Homo sapiens: one gene and its partners. The protein of the gene in region 4 interacts with the protein of the main gene of each other region in a biochemical or structural test. Each region holds a gene or a part of one and is shown on either strand. Other genes may lie near its edges.

Evidence for each region.
Region 1: the proteins of SLC22A9 (region 4) and CARD11 interact in a test that uses a peptide from one of them, tested with the Homo sapiens proteins (one large-scale study listed by IntAct).
Region 2: the proteins of SLC22A9 (region 4) and MAGI3 interact in a test that uses a peptide from one of them, tested with the Homo sapiens proteins (one large-scale study listed by IntAct).
Region 3: the proteins of SLC22A9 (region 4) and PATJ interact in a test that uses a peptide from one of them, tested with the Homo sapiens proteins (one large-scale study listed by IntAct).

Annotation. Positions count from the first base shown.
Region 1 is NC_000007.14:3,033,868-3,037,367, forward strand, and holds part of CARD11 (caspase recruitment domain-containing protein 11), read right to left. Parts: intron 1-3,500. UniProt on the Homo sapiens protein: Adapter protein that plays a key role in adaptive immune response by transducing the activation of NF-kappa-B downstream of T-cell receptor (TCR) and B-cell receptor (BCR) engagement.
Region 2 is NC_000001.11:113,393,515-113,397,014, reverse strand, and holds part of MAGI3 (membrane-associated guanylate kinase, WW and PDZ domain-containing protein 3), read right to left. Parts: intron 1-3,500.
Region 3 is NC_000001.11:61,759,480-61,762,979, reverse strand, and holds part of PATJ (inaD-like protein), read right to left. Parts: intron 123-3,500; 5' UTR 88-122; coding exon 66-87; intron 1-65.
Region 4 is NC_000011.10:63,368,444-63,372,584, reverse strand, and holds the start of SLC22A9 (organic anion transporter 7), read right to left. Parts: upstream 2,801-4,141; 5' UTR 2,529-2,800; coding exon 2,127-2,528; intron 1,451-2,126; coding exon 1,347-1,450; intron 1-1,346. UniProt on the Homo sapiens protein: Sodium-independent organic anion transporter, exhibits high specificity for sulfated conjugates of xenobiotics and steroid hormones such as estrone 3-sulfate (E1S) and dehydroepiandrosterone sulfate (DHEAS).

The DNA of each region.
Region 1 (3,500 bases), on a different chromosome or scaffold from region 4:
GACATAAGGTTGATCTTTAAAATATATTTTAAAATTACAGCTGGGCACGGTGGCTCATGCCTGTCATCCTAGCACTTTGGGAGGCTGAGGCGGGCGGATCCCCTGAGGTCAGGGGTTCGAGACCAGCCTGGCCAACATGGTGAAACCCTATCTCTACTAAAAATACAAAATTAGCTGGGCATGGTGGCACACACCTGTTATTCCAGCTACTCAGCAGGCTGAGGCAGGAGAATTGCCTGAACCCGCGAGGTGGAGGTTGCAGCGAGTTGAGATCACACTACTGCACTCCAGCCTGGGCAACAAGAGTGAGACTCTGTGTCAAAGAAAATAGAACTGTATATATATAATTACTAAATTATATATATAAATTATATAAATAGATATTATACAAATATAATTATACATATTATATACAATTATATATAAATATATAATTATACATATAATTACATATATAATTTTTTAAAAATAATATGTATATATGTACAAATTACTTAAGAAAGATACAGGGCTGGGCACGGTGGCTCACATCTGTAATCCCAGAACTTTGGGAGGCTGAGGCTGGAGGATAGTTTGAGTCTAGGAGTTCGAGACCAGCCTGGGCAACATAGCAAGACCCTCATCTCTACAAAAAATAAAAAAATTAGCCGGTCATGGTGTCACATGCCTGTAGTCGCAGCTACTTGGGAGGCTGAGGTGACAGGATTGCTTGAACCCAGGAGGCTGAGGCTGCAGTGAGCTATGATGGCACCATTGCACTCCAGCCTGGGCAACAGAGCAAGACAAAATTACAGCAAACTTCCACATAAAATGAGTGAGGAGACACGGTGACCCGTCCCCGGCGCACAGACGGCCTTCTGCTTGTACCGGAGCTGGGTCCTTTCCCCACTAGGTCATGCTCTTCGCCAGTCTAAGACCTCCCCGGGCTCAGAACACTCGGAACAGGGCCCGGTAAAAGGCCGTCCTTTAAGAAGGAGGAGAAACATTTTTCAAAGATCGAGAACTCTCCTACGAAGAGCCAAGAGCCTCTGCGTGCCTCAGGGACTCAAACGGGGATCACGGTGCCTGTTCACTGGCAAACAGGGACCCCCATGTCAGCTCGCAGAGGCTCTCCGCAGGGTATCAAGCTGCTTCTTGAAACGCGTCTGAGAATTGAAGTCAGGAGTCTTGGAAGGCGGTGTGAGGTATCGTTATTATTCTGCTGAACGTTTCCCCCGGAACCAACGATACCTGAATCCCTTTAAAAATAGGCCATTTCTTCTTAGAAGATTTCCACGAATCACATAATCCTTACGCAGAGGCAGGCAACGAAGCACTAATGTCAATAACGTTACAGTTTTACTTCACAGCAGCATTTATCCACTGACATAGCAATTTACTAAACCGCAGAAAACGCCGGCACAGGGCCTCTGCTTGCCCTTGGATTTTTTTTTTTTTTTTTTTTTTTTTTTGAGATGGAGTCTCACTCTGTCACCCAGGCTGGAGTGCAGCGGCGCGATCTCGGCTCACTGCAGCCTCCGCCTCCCGGGTTCACGCCACTCTCCTGCCTCAGCCTCCCGAGTAGCTGGGACTACAGGTGCCCACCACCACGCCTGGCTAATTTTTTTGTATTTTTAGTAGAGAGAGGGTTTCACCGTGTTAGCCAGGATGGTCTCGATCTCCTGACCTCTTGATCCGCCTGCCTCGGCCTCCCAAAGTGGTGGGATTACAGGCGTGAGCCACCGCGCCCAGCCCTCCTTGGATTTTTTAAATTTCAGAGACAAGGTCTCCTTCTGTCGCCCAGGCTGGAGTGCAGTGGTGCAATCACAGCTCACTGCAGCCTCTACCTCCTGAGCTCAAGTGATCCTCCCACCTCAGCCTCCTGAGGAGCTAGGCCCACAGGCATGACCACTACACCAGCTAACTTTTACATTTTTTGTAGAGATGGGGTCTTACTATGTTGCCCAGGCTGGTCTCAAACAACTAGGCTCAAGCCATCCTCCTGCCTCAGCCTCCCAAAGTGCTGGGATGATAGACATGAGCCACTGTGCCCAGGCTGCTTCCAGATTTTTTTTTTTAAAGGGCCATCACCACCAAGACACGTATAAGAATGTTCACAGTGGTTTCATCATAACAGCCCCAAACTGCAAGCAACAGAAACATTTATCAACGGTCAGGTGGATAAGTAAATTGTGGTAATTTTTTTTTTTTTTTTTTTGAGACAGGTCTCACTCTGTCACCCAGGCTGGAGTGCAGTGGTGCGATCTTGGCTCACTGCAACCTCTGCTTTCTTGGGCTCAAGCAATTCTCCAGCCTCAGCCTCCCGAGTAGCTGGGATTATAGGCGCAAGCCACCAATGCTTGGCTAATTTTTGAATTTTTGTAGAGACGGTTACATCCTGTTGCCCAGGCTGGTCTTGAACTCCTGAGCTCAAAGCAATCTGCCTGCCTTGGCCTCCCAAAGTGCTGGGATTACAGGCATGAGACACAGCGCCTGCCCCTATTGCGGTAAATTTATGCCATGAAATACTGTGTAGCAATGAAAAAGAAACATTGAATGTGACTCCGTCCACGTCAAGTTCAAGGACAGGGATGGTGATAGAGGTTGGAAGGGTCCTCCCTTAGGGGACAGGGGAGGGGTAACGACTGGGAGGGGATATGGCACTTCCCCAGAACCTAGAAAGGACCCAAATCTTGATCTGGGTGATTGGCTCCAGAAGGGCATGTGAAGGCCCGTCAAGCTGTTTGTACGCTTAAGACTGTACTGTGTGTGTGTTATACCTTAATTTTTAAAAATTATTATTATTATTATTACTGATGGGCAATCAGTTTTACCTTTCTTTTTTATTTTATTTTTAGAGATGGGGTCTTGTTCTACTGCCCAGGCTGGAGTACAGTAGTGCAATCCTAGCTCACTGCAGCCTCAAACTCCTGGGCTCAAGTGATCCTCCCATCTCAGCCTCTGGAGGAGCTGGGACTACTACAGGTGTGTGTCACCATGCCTGGCTAATTTTTTAAAGTTTTTTTGTAGAGGTGGGATCTCACTATGTTGCCCAGGCTGGTCTCGAACTCCTAGGCTGAAGTGATCCTTCCACCTGGGCTTCCCAAAGTGTTGGGATCACAGGTGAGAGGTGCCACGCCTGGCCTATCAAACTTTTTGATGTTTGCCAGTCTGACAGGTGGAAAACGCTATGTCCCTGTTGTATTACTTCACATGGATTTAATTACAAACGAAGCATGCTGACTGACCTGCTCATATTCCGTGTGTTTGTACCCTTTCACCATTTTTTCCATTGGTTGAATTCTCTAATTTTGGGGTCTGGACACTCCCACTGAGGGTCCAGTCCTGTGCCATCCACTGTGCCGAAGGTGGCCATACTCACTCCCAACTGCAGCCGCCTCCACCCCGCAAGGACAGAGTTGCTAGCTTCGACAGAGACCCTCTGGCTCACAAGGCCTAAAATATTTACTATTTGGAGCTTTCGAGAAAAAGTGTGCCAGTTCCCATGTCTCATTGGTTTA
Region 2 (3,500 bases), on a different chromosome or scaffold from region 4:
CCTCTTTTTGTGATGACTTGAGAACCCAAATCCTTTCTAAAATGCAGCTCCACTACTTTTTCGAATAGCACACTATGCAGCCAGTTAGTCTCATTTTCACCAAAATTCATACTAAGACCTACCTAAAGAGTTTTAAACACTGGCAGAAAAGTGAAAAAGGCAAAACCCTTACTACAGGTATTCCTTACCAATGAGTCATTAAGCTCCCACTAAACTGCCAGCTTCTTGAAGACACACAATTTCTGACTCATGTTTATATCGCCAGTGCTAGCTCCATGCTGGCACTTGGTGGGTGCACCACTAAGTATTTGCTGAGGGAATGAATGCGTGCCAGTAATAGGACTTCTTATTTTTTCTGTATTAAATAAAATATGCATCTTTTCTTGGAAAACATTCTGAATAATAGTTGTTCTTCAAAAACAAAATATTAGCAAGATATTTTGTTAGCAAAATTAGCTAGAAGAGCAATGAATGGATTTGCCTCTTTCCCTACAAACATGTCTCATAACACCAGCTTCTAAGTTTCTGAAACTCTTACTTTAGACAATAGTTTTAAATTCAGGGCATTCACTCTATCTACCAAAATGTAGTATTTCAAGAAAATTATTGCTCAAAATTTCAGAAGACAAAAAATAATTTATTAAAGGCGAAACGGTTCTAGTCTTCAATACCAAAACACTTATCTTTTGTCAAATCACACACACACACACACACACACACACACACAACCCTGACATTCACAGATTTTGAAATTGGTAAATAATACTGAAGTAATCCATAAAAACAAGATTCTCTTTCAACATACTCCCAAAACACTAAGTCCCCCCAAAAATTACAAAGCACTTAGGGGTTACATAGTAAAGACTCTGTATGAAACTATCACTTGAGAAGATTAGGCACTGACTTCATAAGTCAGACACTTGAATGAATTTAGAAGATTTGTTTTGTCGCCAGTTTACATAAATTAGCAGAAAAAAAATCACAAAAATTTGTCTCTCAAAACAAAAGGTTTTATAAAGTATGTGCCAGGATCTCAGAGGAAAAATAATGTATACGTCCCAGGAACACAGAGTTATGTTACATGAAAATCAGTTTTAGCAATAAACTGAATAAAATTTAAAATCATCTAAAAATCAAATGGCCAAATGTTAAGTATTTGTTTGTACCAGTAAGATAGCAAGAAATTAAAGAATTATTAAAATGCCTCAACCTAGGAAAATAAAGTTTTACAAACTAAATTATAAAAGTCTGGGGGTGAGGGCAGGATCAATAAAGTACCCAAAATGATATACTAGAAAATGATATACAAGAAAAGTTAACAAAAGTATGTGTGTGTGTATATACATATACATATATGCATATAATATATATATACACACACGTATATACATATATACATACTGAGATATTTGGATATAGTACTCTTAGAGAATGATGGAGAGAAAATATTTTTTAAGTACAAAGATGTTAATGATATAATAAAAGTCATCAAATATCATGCAAGCAAATCAGCTTGCAATTGCTAAGGTGTAAGCCCATTACTCATATGAATTGAAGGTGTCAATGAACAGAATCCAAAACCTGAACCCCTGAGTTATTAAGAGCTTTAGGGAAAAAAGAAAAAAAAACTACCAAAATTTGAAATAGGAAATTTTCAACTTCAAGGTTTATCAAAATGTAATGCTACTTTCCCTAGCAAAGGGGCTTGGCTTGCTTCTTTTTCTATTGTTTCTAAAATAATCTCTAGGTCTCTAGATTTTCTTGTTTTAAAAAAGGTACGAAGAAATGTATTGTAAGCCTGGGAGGCTAACAATTAACTCTAAATTCTCTTACCTTTCCCATCCTCATATAATACAACCACCTAAACAAAACTCATCAAAAATCCTAAATATCCCACTAAAAAAAAAAAAAAAAAAAAAAAAAAAAACTAACAAAAAGATTCAAGAGATAAGAAAGGCACAGCATTATTTTTATTTGAATAACATAAATATTTCCTATTTTAAAGCATCCAGTAGTGTTTCTTCACCAACAGGAAGTGTATTTCTAGGAATTAGCCCATTTTAACAAAACTCCCTTACAAATTGGATGTCCCAAAGAGTCAGCAGTGAAGACTTTTACCTACCTTTAACATTACCCAGGAACTGTTTCAACTTGGTTTTTATTTAAACAAACTATAACATTGTTTCCTATGATTTCCATCCCTGGATACACTACTTGCTTAGGGTAGTTGAATGTAATGTGTGCATATGGCAGTAGACAATGATTTCATGTATTTATTGTACCGATACTTAATCTCTGGAATAAAATACACATAATTTACTGAAACTTACTGAAAGCAAACTGCTGAAATATGAGCTTAAAGGTGTATGAAGAAGCATAAAACTCTGCACAATTAGAGTCTGGGGAATTTCAGAACAAAATTCACTACTTGTATATTAATCAGAATAGAAATGGTTTAAGAATATATACTCTGTAGTAAAATCAAAGAAACTAAACCTAGTCATAGTAGTATATCACAAAACAATTTCACCAGAGGTCCAAAGTTCAACTTTACTACTGGGAAAAGACAAAGTTCAAACTCAAATGACAACTTTTCTCTTTGCAGAAAAATAAACAACAGGGTCATAATTAAGAAACAAGTAACTAATCGAGCCAAGCAATAGGTGAAACCAAAGATTCTTCTATAAGCGGGCAAAGTACTGACTACTAAGTACTACACTAAAACAATAAGAAACTACCTAATTGATTCAGGAAAAGCTTCAGATTAGAAACCATATTTTAAAGAGTAACTTTCAATTCTCTATTAAAGATTATAACAACAAAAAAAGGGAAAAAAAATCAAAGCTAAAGACAGTAGCTGCCAGAAAGATGTTAAGTCACCTGGCTGATAGTACTGGCTTTGGGAGGGCGACCCTTAGCACCTAAGTGAAAAGAAGGCTAGGAAGAATCAGTGCTACAAAAGCCATGTTCTACAACCCAGCTCATCCTTCTGCCATGGACTTTGTCAGAAGACAATATGAGAACATTTCCGATTAGTATTACATCTTACAAAAATGGTTAAATTTTACTCTTTCACTGTGCTAGTCTCTAAATGTCATGTTATGAATATGGTTTAATAAAAAGCAACTAGTCAAGACAAGAGAGTGCTAAGTACACTTTACAATACCTTATTAAATTGAAAAATCAATTTCTGTCACAAAGTTTAGATAAAAGCAAAAAATAAAACAATGTTTATGGCAAGTTTCTTTTTAAATTCCCTTACTCTATTTTCATCCTTTCCAAAATGAATCACAATAAAGAATCTTTGTCTCTTCTGAAAATAATATTTGTTTTTAATCAAACTCAAAAGTTCTACAGATAACCTCTTCAAATTCTTAATTTCTAGTATTTAAAGTCTGTTTAACCTGCAAAAATCTTGCTATTTTATAACAAATGTTGCTTTTAAGCAAAGCCATTTAAGAAAGCCATTTAATATAATACCTAACATGAGGCTATTAAGA
Region 3 (3,500 bases), on a different chromosome or scaffold from region 4:
AAGTCCCATTTGAGATTCCATTTTTAAATAATTAATTTAATTATAGAACAATATATCCAGTATACCTGTAGCAGGATTTTCAGGCATTTTGAATTATTCTCTTCAATCACTCTTAAAGACACCTAAAGAAAAAATTTAACAATATAAAAGATGAATTTCAATTGTATATGGCTACAATCCTGTAGAAAAATTAAGGAAAACCTCAAGAACATTCTTTATCAAGGCTCCACTCAGTGAAATTCAAAATTATAACCACAATGAGGTGCCACTACACACCCACTAAGGTAACTAAAATTTAAAAACAGACAACACTAAGTTTCAACGAGGCTGTGAAGTGCCTGGAACTATTATTGTACATTGCTAAGAGAAACGTAAAATATCACAACCACTTCGGAAAATTGGTAGTTTCTTATAAAGTTAAAAATACACTTACTATATGACCCAGCACTTCCACTCACAAATACTTACTCAGTATTCATGAAAATATATGCTCACAAAAACGCCTGCACATGAAAGTTTACAGCATTTTTATTTACAAAAACCCCAAAACTAGAAAAACCCAAGTGTCTAGTAACAGATGAATAAACAAATGGTATATAATATTCAGAAATAAAAAGGAAAAATTACTGATACACACAACAAGGATAAATCTCAAAAATGATATGTGGAAAAAAAGAAACCTGACCCAAAAAAGGCACAAACCATACTGTATGATTACATTCATATGAAGTTCAAGTACTGACAAAACTAATCTACAATTATAGATTAATTTACCTGGGGCAGGGTCATAGGGAACTGACTATGACAGGCTTCAGAACATGCTACTCCCAAAATATGACACCTTGGCATTGTTGAATATTTTAAGTTGAAGGAATCTGAGAAACAGCAGGTGCAAAAAAGACTTCCCCTGAAGCAGATCATAGGATCCTCATGTGAGAGGTGTCCTCTCTATACCCAGAAGATAGCAGCATCTTAATCTCAAAAGACAGAGTGGCCGGGCGCATTGACTCATGCCTATAATCCCAGCACTTTGGGAGGCCGAGGCAGGAGGATCACTTCTGCCCCAGAGTTTGAGGCCAGCCTGGGCAACACAGTGAGATTCCATCTCTACAAAAAAAATTCAAAAATCAGCCACCCATGGTGGCACATACCCATAGTCCCAGCTGCTCAGGAGGCTGAGGCAGGAGGATCACTTGAGCCCAAGAGGTTGAGGCTGCAGTGAGCTATGATCATGCCACTGCACTCCAGCCTGGGGAACAGAGTGAGACCCTGTCTCAAAAATTAAAAAAAAAAAAAATAGAGGAACACCCAGAGGAATATGAACAAACAGGCCTTGTTAAGTTTTTCCCTGTTTACTACTCTTGGCTCATATCCCTTTCTGTCCTATCACATTCCACAACTCTTCCTTCTTCATCAAACCTAATTTAAAAACACTCAGGTTTTACTGTTTCTTCGGGTCTTCCTTTCCTTATGAAGGCTCCCATGTCACATAAAACTTATATTAAACAAGTTTACATGTTTTTCTCTTGTTAATCTACCCTTTATTACAGGGGCCCCAACCGAAAACTTAGAAGGGTAGAGGCTATTTTCCCTCCCCTACACTGGGAAGGGGTTCAAGGAAGCTTTTTTGGAGTGATGGACACATTGTGTCTTGAAGGGGGTATGGTTTACACAGATGTATATACTTATCAAAATTTATTGAACCAGGCCAGGAGCAGTGGCTCACTGTGATCCCAGTACTTTAGGAGGCCAAGGCAGAAGGATCACTTGAATCCAGGAGTTTGAGACCAGCCTGTGCAACAAAGTGAAACCTCATCTCTACAAAAACAAAAAAATTAGCTGGTGTGGTGGCTTGTACCTGTAATCCCAGCTACACTGGAGACTGAGGTGAGAGGATCGCTTGAGCCCAGGAGGTTGAGGTTACAGTGAGCCATGATCATGCCACTGCACTCCAGCCTGGGTGACAAAGGGAGACCCCATCTCAACAAAAAATAAAAGAAAAATTCCCAAGCTGTACAAATGATCTCAGACTCTTACTAGTCATCTACAGCTTGAAAGAAACCACCCAGGCTGGGCGCCACGGCTCACACCTGTAATCCCACACTTGGAGAGATCGAGGTGGGTGGATCACCTGAGGTCAGGAATTCGAGACCAGCCTGGCCAACACAGAGAAACCCCGTCTCTAATAAAAATACAAAAATTAGGCGTGGTGGCACTCACCCATAATTCCAGCTACTCGGGAGGCTGAGGCAGGAGAATTGCTTGAACCTGGGAGGTGGAGGTTGCAGTGAGCTGAGCTCATGCCACTGCACTCCAGCCTAGGCAATAAAGCCAGACTCTGTCTCAAAAAAAAAAAAAAAGAAAAAGAAAAAGAAAAGAAAAAAGAAACCACTCAAAGTGGCATTCTCTATGGATAATGTTTTCTTAATTCCAGTGATTTGATGAAATTAATCTAAAATGTAACGTAATTAAAAACTCAAAAGGCTAGCAAAACCCTTTGCTATGACCAAAATGAGACATTTTCAGTGATCATTTTTACTAGTGATACACACTTGTAATGAACCATCAAAGAAATACAAGTATTATACAATCAAAATTTTCTTACATCAACCTGGATATGGTGGCTGAATGACATCTTTATCTTCTAATTCAAGATCATTAAGCAAAAAAACATATTGAAAACCAATAACGGATGCCATTGACATTGATAAAAGGTCTAAGTATTCCATCCAAATGTTCACTGGATTCAATGGGAATACCAAAAGAAGTGCTGAATAGAGCATCAAAAAAACACTTCTGATGTGCTCAGCATCTCAACTGTACAACTCTTACAACTACCCAGTGACAGGTAACTGTGAATAACAAAAGGGCAGTCATGACAGCACTGTACTCTCATATAGCAGCATACAGCCCAACAGGATTGACAAGAGCGGCCTGCTGGTCATTAACACATCAACCTCTCTAAATCGAAGAATGCAAACTAAAACAATAAGATGACATTTTTTTACTGCCAAATCTCAACTGACATTTATTGATTTATTAGAGATTAATAATAGTTTATACTCCAAATGTCATGAAAAAATAGGTGGAAATAAAAATTTACACAATGTATACTGACACTGCTAAGTTGTCCTAAGAGTGTACAATTTTTACTTCTGAGTGTCACTCTGAAAGAAAAACTGGCAAAGGGGGACAAAGATGTGTGTGCAAGGGTATTTACCACATTTTTAATAGCAAAACTCCTGGAAAAAGTAAATTATCAAAAGCGATCAGCCCGGGCGCTGTGGCTCACGCCAGTAATCCCACCACTTTGGGAGGCCAAGGTAGGCGGATCACTTGAGGTCAGGAGCTCGAGACCAGCCTGAACAACATGGTGAAACCTTGTGTACTAAAAACACAAAAATTTGCTGGGCGTGGTGGCAGACGCCTATAATCCCAGCTACTTGGGAGGCTGAGGCAAGAGAATCACTTGAACGCAGGAGGTGGAGGTTTCAGTGAGC
Region 4 (4,141 bases):
AATTCCAATAGAAATCTAAAGGAAATTAGATTTCTCCCTTTTCTCACATCATAATGTAGTTCCTTGTTTTTGACTTTTACATTGGTGGAACACTATAGTATGTAATCTTTTTGTTGGTCTTGTGGTACCTAACCAAATGGTTTTGATGTTAATTCACCTTATTGCAGACAGTACTTTATTCATTCCCTTTGCTGTAAAAATTCATTATGTGAATATCTGCTTATTTATTAACCTATTATTAATGAAATTATAGATTATTTCCGATTTTAAGATATCATAAACAGTTGAGTGAGTTATTCCAAAACAATCAGTTTGATCATAGCCTACTCTGCATATAATCACATAATATTTCCTCTTAGGTTTGTGAGAAATACCAAAATCCTTAGGTTATCTTGTCCCTTCGTCTTTAGCTGATTCTCCACTGTCATCTCCTGCCTGGCATCTCCTACCCCTTCTTTTACCACCCTGTGATCTATTAAAATTGGTCTATCTGCATTTTCCCAGGACAGTATCACAGAGGACTGGGTGACTAACTATTGGAAATTAACCCTCTGACTCTTAGCTCATTCTACATTCCATTTCCTGTCGTACATTCAAGGTTCAAATTTTCAGGTGAGACACCAGAAGACATGATGTTGGTGGATGGCAAGTGGCACTTCAAGTCCCTCATCGCCATCAGGGGAGACATGGTTGGGTGAAGGTAATTGTTCCCTGCCATGTCAGGAGACATACAGCAAGGTGAATACCCCAAACTTCTCACACCACAGACTGAGATAGTATTATCCTTGGATTACTTACCTCACATGGTTCTAAAAAGCTGTTTTTGCAAAGACAATAATCAAGTTTCTACACATAATTTTTCAACACACCACCAATGATACCTTCAAATATACCCTACAGGTTTTAGAGGAATGCGTGTTCATCACACTTGGAACTATGATGTAATGACAATTCTCTGGGCACAAGCTATCAGCTCACAGTGTCCAGGTAGGACTGGACCTGGTACTCCTGGCCAAGGCTGAATCCTATGTGATGAAACGTCTTCCTTTCTATTCCCTTAGTTAACTCTTTCTCATATTTCTAAACCACATGTTGTGGTACCTTCTCTCTAAAACCTGTCTTGAAACACCCCCAGTTCACATGGAGATATCATTTCTGTGTCCTGCATACAGAGCTCAAATTTTAAAAATAGCACTCAAAACACGGACTAAAAATTTCCTTTTCTGTTTGGGGATCAGGGCAGCCTCAGGAGAATGTAATTTGCAGTAAGTAATTCTAGATGAAATAATGTTTCATAAGTTGATAAAAAATGCCCTTAAAGAGAGCTGTGTTCCATACACACTCACCTGTCTGATAAATGACCGCCTAGGATGCCTCCCACCATCATTCCAGCCATGAATACAAATTTAGCCACTGAAGTCAGTGATTGAGAGTCACATACCAGATCCCACTGGAAGAGAAGGAAGCCAGCACATCAATGCTTATTACCCCTCAGTGTAACTTGATCAAAACTTCTTAGCATGATCTGCAAGTTTCCTAATATTAAGTCTCTAACTTCCTCTGTGGCTTCCTTTCTCAGCATTACCTGACCTTTGTTATTCAGGTCTCAACTTAAACATAACTTTCTCTTGGAAGACTTTCCTAAACCTATAGGTTTTTATTTCATACTAAATGGTTCTCAAACATGACCACATGGTGCAATCACTTGAAGACCTTTAAAAACTTTTAGAAACCTAAATTTCCCTCTTAGACCTTCTCATATGATTGTTTTAGGGTATACTCTGGGCATGGAGGCTTTTCTCAATTTCCCAGATATTTCTAATTTGCAATGACAGGCTGAGCATCACTGACCTAGCAGAACATTTTAACATATTATATATAAATGCTTGTTTAAACTTTGGTCTCCCTGTGACTTAAAGCATTATAATAGCAGGATGCCTTCTACTTTGGAATTCATTACTCAAAATGTGTAGGTGTCAGACATTTAATAAAGAAGCAATTAGTATTTGCTGAAAGAATGAAGACTAAGGACCTACATGTGACTGAAGGCTGGAAGCATGATTATTACTTGTGTTATTCTAAACACCCAGGTCACATACTCATGAGACGAGAACAGAGCCTCTTACCTCAGTCACGATGGTGGATGAGAAGGAGATTCTGTCATACACCCAGCCATCCACACAGGGCTCCATGTCTGCGTCACTTGTGTTGGGGAAGGTCCCATTCAGGTGAAGGAGCTGCCACTGAGGATGAACAAAGCGACGACACTTCTCTGGCCTCATGTTTGAGTCCAGTGGGATGGAGATTCTCAAGAGTGCATCTTGGCTGAGGGCCCCAGTGTCATTGTCAGAGACAGTGTCATTGTCCAGGATGTGGACCCAGCAGCGATGGCCAGGTATGAATGCAGTGAAGTTCTCCAGCATAAAATGAAGGTATGTAGCAACAGCAAAGATTGAGAGAAAAACAGTCTGAAGGATCTGGAATCTCCACAGGTCACCAGCGTGACCCAGGAGGTCCTGAAAGGCCATTGAGGTTGAACAGTTGATCCTCAAGTAGAGGCAAAATGACTGTATCCAGAGAGGTTCAAAGAGGGAAAATGTTTTCTTTCCCTAAGTCACACTAAATGTGTTTTGATCCTGACCCCACTCTCTTCTTGACGACTGTGCTTCCCCTCTGCAGCAGGACCGTGGAAACAGTTTCCTCAAGTCGTTTTGGGGTCAGATAGGTAGCCGTTTTCTCTAAAGTCACGTAAGAAATAATTTGCTCAGATACTCCCAGTCGTTTACAATGAAATGTGTTTAAAATTCTACTTTTTCATGTCTTTAGTAGCTCCCAAAGTCAGCACTGGACTTTGGTCTACACTTTTCTGTAAACAAACTAAAATAAACCTGCTACATGGTATGCGGTCATTCCAGGAAGCATAATTTTGGCGACTCAAAGGTGAGGTGCTTTTTTTACTTCTCTGAAAACAACAGAAGGCAAGTTTTTCCTTGTTAAGTACCAATTTTTGATTAAGAGTTAATCTAAAAAAGTCGAAGTTAAACTAAAATAAGGGTACTGTGGTACAATCCTTTCATTTTGGTGACTGATGTTCTCCTTCATGTCAAATCACACCACAAATTCATGCTGGAAATACATTGCTTGAAATGTGGACAGAATAGATGGTGATGAAAAGCAGAGGAGTAAGCTCATATGGAGGTTTACTTTTACTGGCTTATTGATTTTTCAGATAGTATTTGTGAAGACCTTTTCCATGCTAGTTCCTAAAGTAACGTGTGTGACAAGTTCAAGGATCTTATAGTTGAGTAAGTAAGAGAGAGTACATAAACAATTGCACTCCAACATTATAAATATTATGTGAGATGCACTATGTGCTGTGGAAGAATTGGAGGCAAAATATGGGAGAAAATGTCACCTTGATTAGGACTAAAATTTCTATTAAAATTTAAACCTCCTTGAAGTATAATTCATTTACCATACAATTTACCCTTTTAAAGTATACAATTGAATGTGTTTTGATCATTCAAAGAGTTGTGCAATCATCACTACTATATCGTTACAGAGCATTTTAATCACCACATAGGAAACCATACCCATTAGCAGTAACTCTCCATTTTTATTCACACATCCCACTTAGCAACCGCTAATTTACTTTCTGATTCTAAGGATTTGCCTATTGTGGACATTTGATTTATACATTGAATCATAAAATACTTGACTTTGTATATCTGGCTTAATTCATTTAACATAATGTTTCTTTTTCTTTTTTTTAAATTATACTTCAAGTTTTAGGGTACATGTACACAACGTGCAGGTTTGTTACATATGTATACATGTGCCATATTGGTGTGCTGCACCCATTAACTCATCATTTAGCATTAGGTATATCTCCTAATGCTATCCCTCCCCCCTACCCCCACCTAACAACAGTCCCTGGTGTGTGATGTTCCCCTTCCTGTGTCCATGTGTTCTCATTGTTCAATTCCCACCTATGAGTGAGAACATGTGGTGTTTGGTTTTTTGTCCTTGCGATAGGTTGCTGAGAATGATGGTTTCCAGCTTCATCCATGTCCCTACAAAGGATGTGAACTCATCATTTTTTATGGCTGCATAGTATTCCATGGTATATATGTGCCACATT